Linked DNA regions of Homo sapiens. The protein of the gene in region 1 interacts with the protein of each later gene in a pairwise test. Each region holds a gene or a part of one and is shown in the gene's direction. Other genes may lie near its edges.

The links.
Region 2: the proteins of PRDM16 (region 1) and CCDC13 interact in a two-hybrid assay, tested with the Homo sapiens proteins (one large-scale study listed by BioGRID).

Annotation. Positions count from the first base shown.
Region 1 is NC_000001.11:3,411,703-3,415,202, forward strand, and holds part of PRDM16 (histone-lysine N-methyltransferase PRDM16), read left to right. Parts: coding exon 1-1,098; intron 1,099-2,857; coding exon 2,858-2,945; intron 2,946-3,500. UniProt on the Homo sapiens protein: Binds DNA and functions as a transcriptional regulator. Displays histone methyltransferase activity and monomethylates 'Lys-9' of histone H3 (H3K9me1) in vitro.
Region 2 is NC_000003.12:42,710,754-42,714,253, reverse strand, and holds part of CCDC13 (coiled-coil domain-containing protein 13), read left to right. Parts: intron 1-937; coding exon 938-1,092; intron 1,093-3,500. UniProt on the Homo sapiens protein: Required for primary cilia formation and promotes the localization of the ciliopathy protein BBS4 to both centriolar satellites and cilia.

The DNA of each region.
Region 1 (3,500 bases):
GGCGCCTCCCACGTTCCCCGCACTCACCCCCGGCTTCCCGGGCATCTTCCCTCCATCCTTGTACCCCCGGCCGCCTCTGCTACCTCCCACATCGCTGCTCAAGAGCCCCCTGAACCACACCCAGGACGCCAAGCTCCCCAGTCCCCTGGGGAACCCAGCCCTGCCCCTGGTCTCCGCCGTCAGCAACAGCAGCCAGGGCACGACGGCAGCTGCGGGGCCCGAGGAGAAGTTCGAGAGCCGCCTGGAGGACTCCTGTGTGGAGAAGCTGAAGACCAGGAGCAGCGACATGTCGGACGGCAGTGACTTTGAGGACGTCAACACCACCACGGGGACCGACCTGGACACGACCACGGGGACGGGCTCGGACCTGGACAGCGACGTGGACAGCGACCCTGACAAGGACAAGGGCAAGGGCAAGTCCGCCGAGGGCCAGCCCAAGTTTGGGGGCGGCTTGGCGCCCCCGGGGGCCCCGAACAGCGTGGCCGAGGTGCCTGTCTTCTATTCCCAGCACTCATTCTTCCCGCCACCCGACGAGCAGCTGCTGACTGCAACGGGCGCCGCCGGGGACTCCATCAAGGCCATCGCATCCATTGCCGAGAAGTACTTTGGCCCCGGCTTCATGGGGATGCAGGAGAAGAAGCTGGGCTCGCTCCCCTACCACTCGGCGTTCCCCTTCCAGTTCCTGCCCAACTTCCCCCACTCCCTTTACCCCTTCACGGACCGAGCCCTCGCCCACAACTTGCTGGTCAAGGCCGAGCCAAAGTCACCCCGGGACGCCCTCAAGGTGGGCGGCCCCAGTGCCGAGTGCCCCTTTGATCTCACCACCAAGCCCAAAGACGTGAAGCCCATCCTGCCCATGCCCAAGGGCCCCTCGGCCCCCGCATCCGGCGAGGAGCAGCCGCTGGACCTGAGCATCGGCAGCCGGGCCCGTGCCAGCCAAAACGGCGGCGGGCGGGAGCCCCGCAAGAACCACGTCTATGGGGAACGCAAGCTGGGCGCCGGCGAGGGGCTGCCCCAGGTGTGCCCGGCGCGGATGCCCCAGCAGCCCCCGCTCCACTACGCCAAGCCCTCGCCCTTCTTCATGGACCCCATCTACAGGTATTCAGCACCCCAGCCTCACTGGCTCTCCCTGGGGCGGGGCCGCGGCGGTGCTGGGCGGGCTCAGTGCATGGTGGTGTCTCTTTCAAGCTCCTCCAAGGTCGTCCCCCGGCCTTTGCTGACTTCAGGAAGATGCCCCTGTTCTTGGGGGGGTCTGCACCCCTCAGGAGGGATGCCTGGCTTGGCTGCTCCTAAGCTAGGTGCCTGGCCCGGGCCGTGTTTGGGAGGCCAGGACGGGTGCTCCTGGACACGTGCAGTTTGCTTGCACCGATGACCACTCAGACATCACACTGCTGGCCTCGAGCGCCTCCTATCCCCAGTAACCCCACCCCCCACCCCAACCCACACCCTTCCCCACCCCTCTCTCCAGCTGTCGTCTCTGGTCTAGCTCTCCCCAGCCTCTACCTGCAGAAGTCAGAGGGGCCTGGGCTGAGTGCTTCCTGCCCCTCCTGGTGCGCTCCTGCCCCTGGAGCCACAGCGGCAGGGGGAATGGGGAGGGGGTGTCTTTCTGGGGGCCCCGGGGGAATCAGAGAAGGAGCCAGTGGTCCTTGGAGGGGAGGAGGAGGCGAGGGATGAAGCAAGCATTGGAGGGTTTTCTAGGCACCAGTGTCCTGTGTCTCTGATGCCTCTCTTGGGGAAAGGCGAGTTTAATGCCACTCCCTAATTTCTGGACAGGTTTGCCCCTCCCTAGAATGCAGGTGGGTTGGAAGAGCAGGGCTAGGCTTGGGGAGGGGGTCCTACCCCCACCAGCACCTGTCCCTGTGCTCCCCGCTTCGCCATGCAAGGAGACAGGCAGGAGACCCTGAGCAAGTCCTGTCCTAATAAAGCAAAAGCGGCCAGTCATAGACATGCTGGGGGTGCTGTGTCTTGCAACGGGGTGGCAGGTTTACCAAAGCGCTCTCAGTGATGGGAAAGAGGCTCCCAAATCTAACCCTCACTATGGGAACCCAGGCAGACAGAGAAGAGCAGGCTGCCTTCAAGAGCCACCAGGCCAAAGGAGGGTCAGTGGATAGCCCTGCCCACGGCCTCTGTTTACCACAGGAGGTTTGCATTGTGATTCAGTGAGCAGGCTTGTCACCGGCATCTGGGGAAGGTTCTGGAACTGTAATCTCCAGCAGCCCTGGAGGGTGTTTAGACAGGGCCCTGTCTGGGTGCTGCAGGAAGCCCCTGGTGACCTCCCCAGGACAGAAACCTGCTGGCCACTCACGTTCATCAGCACACACGGGCAGCACACCCCGTGCCAGGGGCCGGGTCAGAGAAGGAGCGGAGGAGGCCTTGAGCCTCTGGTGTGAGCCACGCTCTGCTGTGAGCAGGTCCAGGGACCCCCTTCAGAGTGGTCCCCACTCATGCAGGGCTGACCGGCCAGTTAGGCCGGGGTGCACGGGGCCTTCAGAGAAAACTCCAGCCGCCTGCACTTAGCACCCATGACCTGCAGGGGTGCTGGCAGCCAGGGGTCTTTGAAGGCCCTCGAGGGGACCTTGGAGGCATGGGAGGTGTGAGGGAACCACTGAGGGAGAGTGTTCAGGGGCAGGTGGTGACAGGGAGGGTCCGTCTAGGGGTGCAGGTGGGCTGGGCTCCCGACATCCCCAAGGCCCACAGAGGAGTCTGGTGAGCGTTGGGGCAGCCACGGCGAGGTCCACACCATGGCCTTGTGACTGGCCAGGTATATGGTCAGGCGGGGTGGGCGGCTCTGTGGAGCGGGTGGCTCGGCGGGGCGGGCGGCTCGGTGGGGTACGTAACCCTCTGTGCTGTTGTCCAGCAGGGTAGAAAAGCGGAAGGTCACAGACCCCGTGGGAGCCCTGAAGGAGAAGTACCTGCGGCCGTCCCCGCTGCTCTTCCACCCCCAGGTACGTCCTCAGTGCAGGTCAGGGCGCCCTGTAACCCACACGCCAGTGGCCCCATCTCCCGGCTGTCGAGGCTCAGTGGCCAGGCTGGAGCCTAAGTCCCCGTCCAGGCCATACCACGCACAGACGCCCTCAAAGGCAGAGGAGGATTCTCTCCCTGAGGCCCCTCAGGTCACTGTAGGCTGGAGAGGTTGAGGACTGAGAGTGACCCTCACAGGGCCACCCCAGGGACCTCTCTGACCCCTGGCTCTGGGCTCCAGGAGGGAGAAGGAGCTTCACTGGAGTCGTGGGCAGAGCCTGAAGGAGCGAGGGCAGGGATTGTGAGTGAGGGGAGCAGCCTCAGGTGGCAGCCCAGGACACAGCGTGGGCGCTCTCTCTGGGGTGCACAGGACCTGAGTATGTTCAAATGGACCGGAAGAGAGGAAGGGCCTGAGCATGCAGAGAGGGGCATGGAGCCAGGCCCCAGGGAGGTGGTGGGCAGGGGGTCTGGAAAGAGACCCAGAGAGCCCCCCAGTCCAGACAGGTGGGTGCAGACCCTGCCAGGCCTGGAGGTGCTCC
Region 2 (3,500 bases), on another chromosome or scaffold:
CTAAAATGGAAAGATTATCCTGGATTATCTGGTGGGCTCAATGTAATCTTTTGAGCCCTTAAAAGCAGAGAAATATCTCCGTCTGGGATTATTCAGAGAGTTGCTGTGGAGGAAGTCAGAGAGGGTAGTGAGATTCAAAGTGTGTTAAGGGTATCTAGCTGGCTTTAAAGATGGAGGGGGCAAGGTGGCTCCTAGAAGGTGAAATTGACCAGCAGCCTGCAGGGAACAGGGACCTCAGTCCTTCAACTACCTGGAACTGGATTCTGTCAACACTCTGAATGGGCCTGAAAGTGGATTTTCCCCCGGAACCTCCAGATAAGAGCCCAGGTCAGCCAACCCCTTGATTTCGGCTTGTGAAACCAGAAGCAGAGAAACCCACTGAGCTTGCCAGGCCTCTGACTTACAGAACTGTGAGATAATAGATTTGTGTTGTTTTAAGCTGCTAAATTTATGGTAATTTGTTATAGCTGTGATAGAAAACTGATACCTAATATCAATTCATCCAAAAACGTATACAGGTGATTCTGTTTCGTAGGAGGAGAGTACTAAAATAAAACTAAATTCTTATTTTGCATGACAGGAAGTCAAAAGATTATATTTAAACCTTATATAAACCTAAAAATAGCAACATAAGCATCTGTAGAAATATGGCAGTAAATATTAAAAGAAACAGCTAGAAGTGTTATAAGTGATTGCTTTTAGAGAGCAGGAATTGGGAATGATGGGGCTGGGAGTGGGCTGATAATTTTTAAATTTTAACCTTGGAGAGAACCATATGGTGTTTAAATGCATGTTCCTGTGTTACTGCAATGAAAATGAAGAGGTCCCATCACTACCAATGTAAGATGTGCCCATCTCTCTAAGGGCCTGAGCAAGTGGGGTAGGGCCTGCCCCTGCCTGCCAGGGCATGTAGCATCCCCTCCTCTCTAATCACCAGGGTGGAGGAGAGCAACAGCAAGCTCCTGGAGTCAGAGAGGAAGCTGCAGGAGGAGCGACACCGCACCGTGGTGCTGGAGCAACATCTGGAGAAGATACGCCTGGAGCCAGGGAAGGCATCAGCCTCCCAGAGAGCAGCTCCCAGGACCAAAACAGGTAGGGGCCAGGGCAGTAGTCTCAGTGCAGGGGGTGGAGGCAGTGTTGCTGCTAACAGAGGAGCCAGGCAGCTGCACTGTTCAGCCCATCAGTGAGCATGTGGGAAGCAGAGCTTCCATCAGGGTGGAGCTCTGCCTGCCTCCACTGTGGGGTGTTCTTTTCCCCAGGCCTCTCAGTCAGAAGCAGGAGCCCCAGAGCTCCATTGCCTCGTGTGGCCCTGGCCTGGCCACCTGTAAGCCCTCAGCATGAGGTGGCAGTGCTGAATGCCCCCAGCCACCCTAGCCCTCAACCCTCTATCCTAAGCTGACTTCATTCAAAGTGGTCATGGGGCACAGCTGGTCTGCTGGGGAAGCCCAAGCAACAGTGGCTGAAGCAGGGGAGGAGTCCCTTTGTGCCTCCTGCAATGGTCAAGTTGATATAAGCAGGAAGTAGCCTCACCAGAGGTTTGGGGACCCAAGCTCCCTCTGTTTTGTGGCTCCACTGTTCTCAACATGCAGCTTCCATCTTCTGGTCTACAATGACTGCCTGAGCTTTCCCATCAGCAGCAGGAAGGGGAGAAGGGAAGGAGACAAACTTCTCCTTACCTTTTACGGTTGCATATGTCACTTCTGCTCTCATCCCATCAGCCAGACAGTTGGGCATAGCCAGGTGCAGAGGGAAGCTGGGAAATGCTATCCTTAACTGAAAAGTCTATCGCTCGAACACAGTGGTTCTCAAGGTGCAGTATTCAGATGAGCAGCATCAGCATCCTGTGGGGCTGGGGCGAGCTGGAGGATGCCAGAGCCAGAAGCCATTTCTGGGATGGCTGACTCCCAGGGAGGAAGGGTCTCCAATGTGGAGGGGCTGGGCCTGCCTCTGTCTGACCTCCCATCCCACCCATCCCAGCCCCCTCCAGGCTGGAATGCTGGAGGTGCTGCTGCCCCCACTGCACCCTCTTTCAACACCCCAGTAGCCCCCCAACCCCTCCCCAGCCAAGGATGGTCAGACCCTTGGTCTCAGTCCTCAGCCCAGATGAGGTCAGAACGTTTCAGAAGGGTGTGCCAGAAGTAGGGCATAAAGAGGGTGTTGGGGCCACTTGCTTTCTCTTCTCCCACCAGCAGGGCCAGGAGCTTCTGAGAATCCAGGCCGGGAAGGAAGGGTCTCTGGGGCTTAGCCTTGCTGACCCTCTTGGACTCTCAGGAATATGTTCCCTAGGAGTGTGGCTTCTCCAGGCTGGGGCTTACCTCCTGTAGGGCAGCAGGACTTCCAACCAGGGAGAGCTAAGCCACAGCAGGCAAGTCACTTTGTTCCCTGCTGGACAGTGAGGGCAGCTGCCTGAGGGAAAGTGTCCAGGTGGCCTCTGCTGCCTACTGGCTTTTAACATGGGCAAAATCCTGCCCCTCTGGTGAGCAGAGCACCACTTACCCGCCTCCCCCTGGCCCATCCGTAAAATGAGGAGGCTAGATTTATAATTCAGTCCCCCATGGCAGTCTCACTCCAGTAGGGGAGCTAGACATCTGAGCAGAGATGGAGGAACTGGGAGGGGATGTGGCCTGCCGATCCCTGAGGGAAAGACAAGTGTCGGTGCTTGGAAGCTTAGCTGGATGCTTGGAGGAACAGGGAGGAGGCAGGGAGGCTGGAGTGGTCCAATCACACAGGGCCTTGAGAGCCAAATAGAATTCACTGAGGCTGCCAAAGCTCTAGAGGCATAAACTATTATCCTTTTTTTCAGCTAAGGAAACCAGCTCAGAGAGGCTGATAGTTTGCCTGAGGCCTCTCAGCAGAGGGCGAAAGCCAGGTCTTCTGATACCAAGTAATTTACTGTGGGTCACACCACCTCTGAGGGCCTTTTCAGTCCCGAGGTTTTCTGATGCTGTGATTTTGCCCAAGTTCGCCACCACCAGTTGAGCTTTGTCTTTTTTTTTTTTTTTTTTTTGGAGACAGAGTCTCACTCTGTCCCTCAGGCTGGAATGCAGCGGTGCGATCTCAGCTCACTGCAACCTCCACCTCCCTGGTTCAAGCAATTCCCCTGCCTCAGCCTCCCAAGTAGCTAGGATTACAGGGGTTCGCCACCACACCCTGCTAATTTATGTATTTTTAGTAATGATGGTGTTTTACCATGTTGGCCGGGCTGGTCTTGAACTCCTGACCTCAAATTATCCACCCCCCTAGACCTCCCAAAGTGCTGGGATTATAGGCATGAGCCACCGCACCCGGCTGAGGCTCTTTTTGATTCCCTGTGTCACAGGGCTTAGAAAATTCCATCAGGCTGAACAAGCAGTTTCCCATCCAGGGCAGCTCTAGTTGGGGATGTGGAGGTGCTCAATGCGTGGAATAAGCCAAGGGCAGCTTAGCAGTGTCCCCTGGAGCCAGGAAAGGCCCTGAAGAACACTCAGTCCAGCCCCTGTAGAGGGCAGAGCCACTCTGCT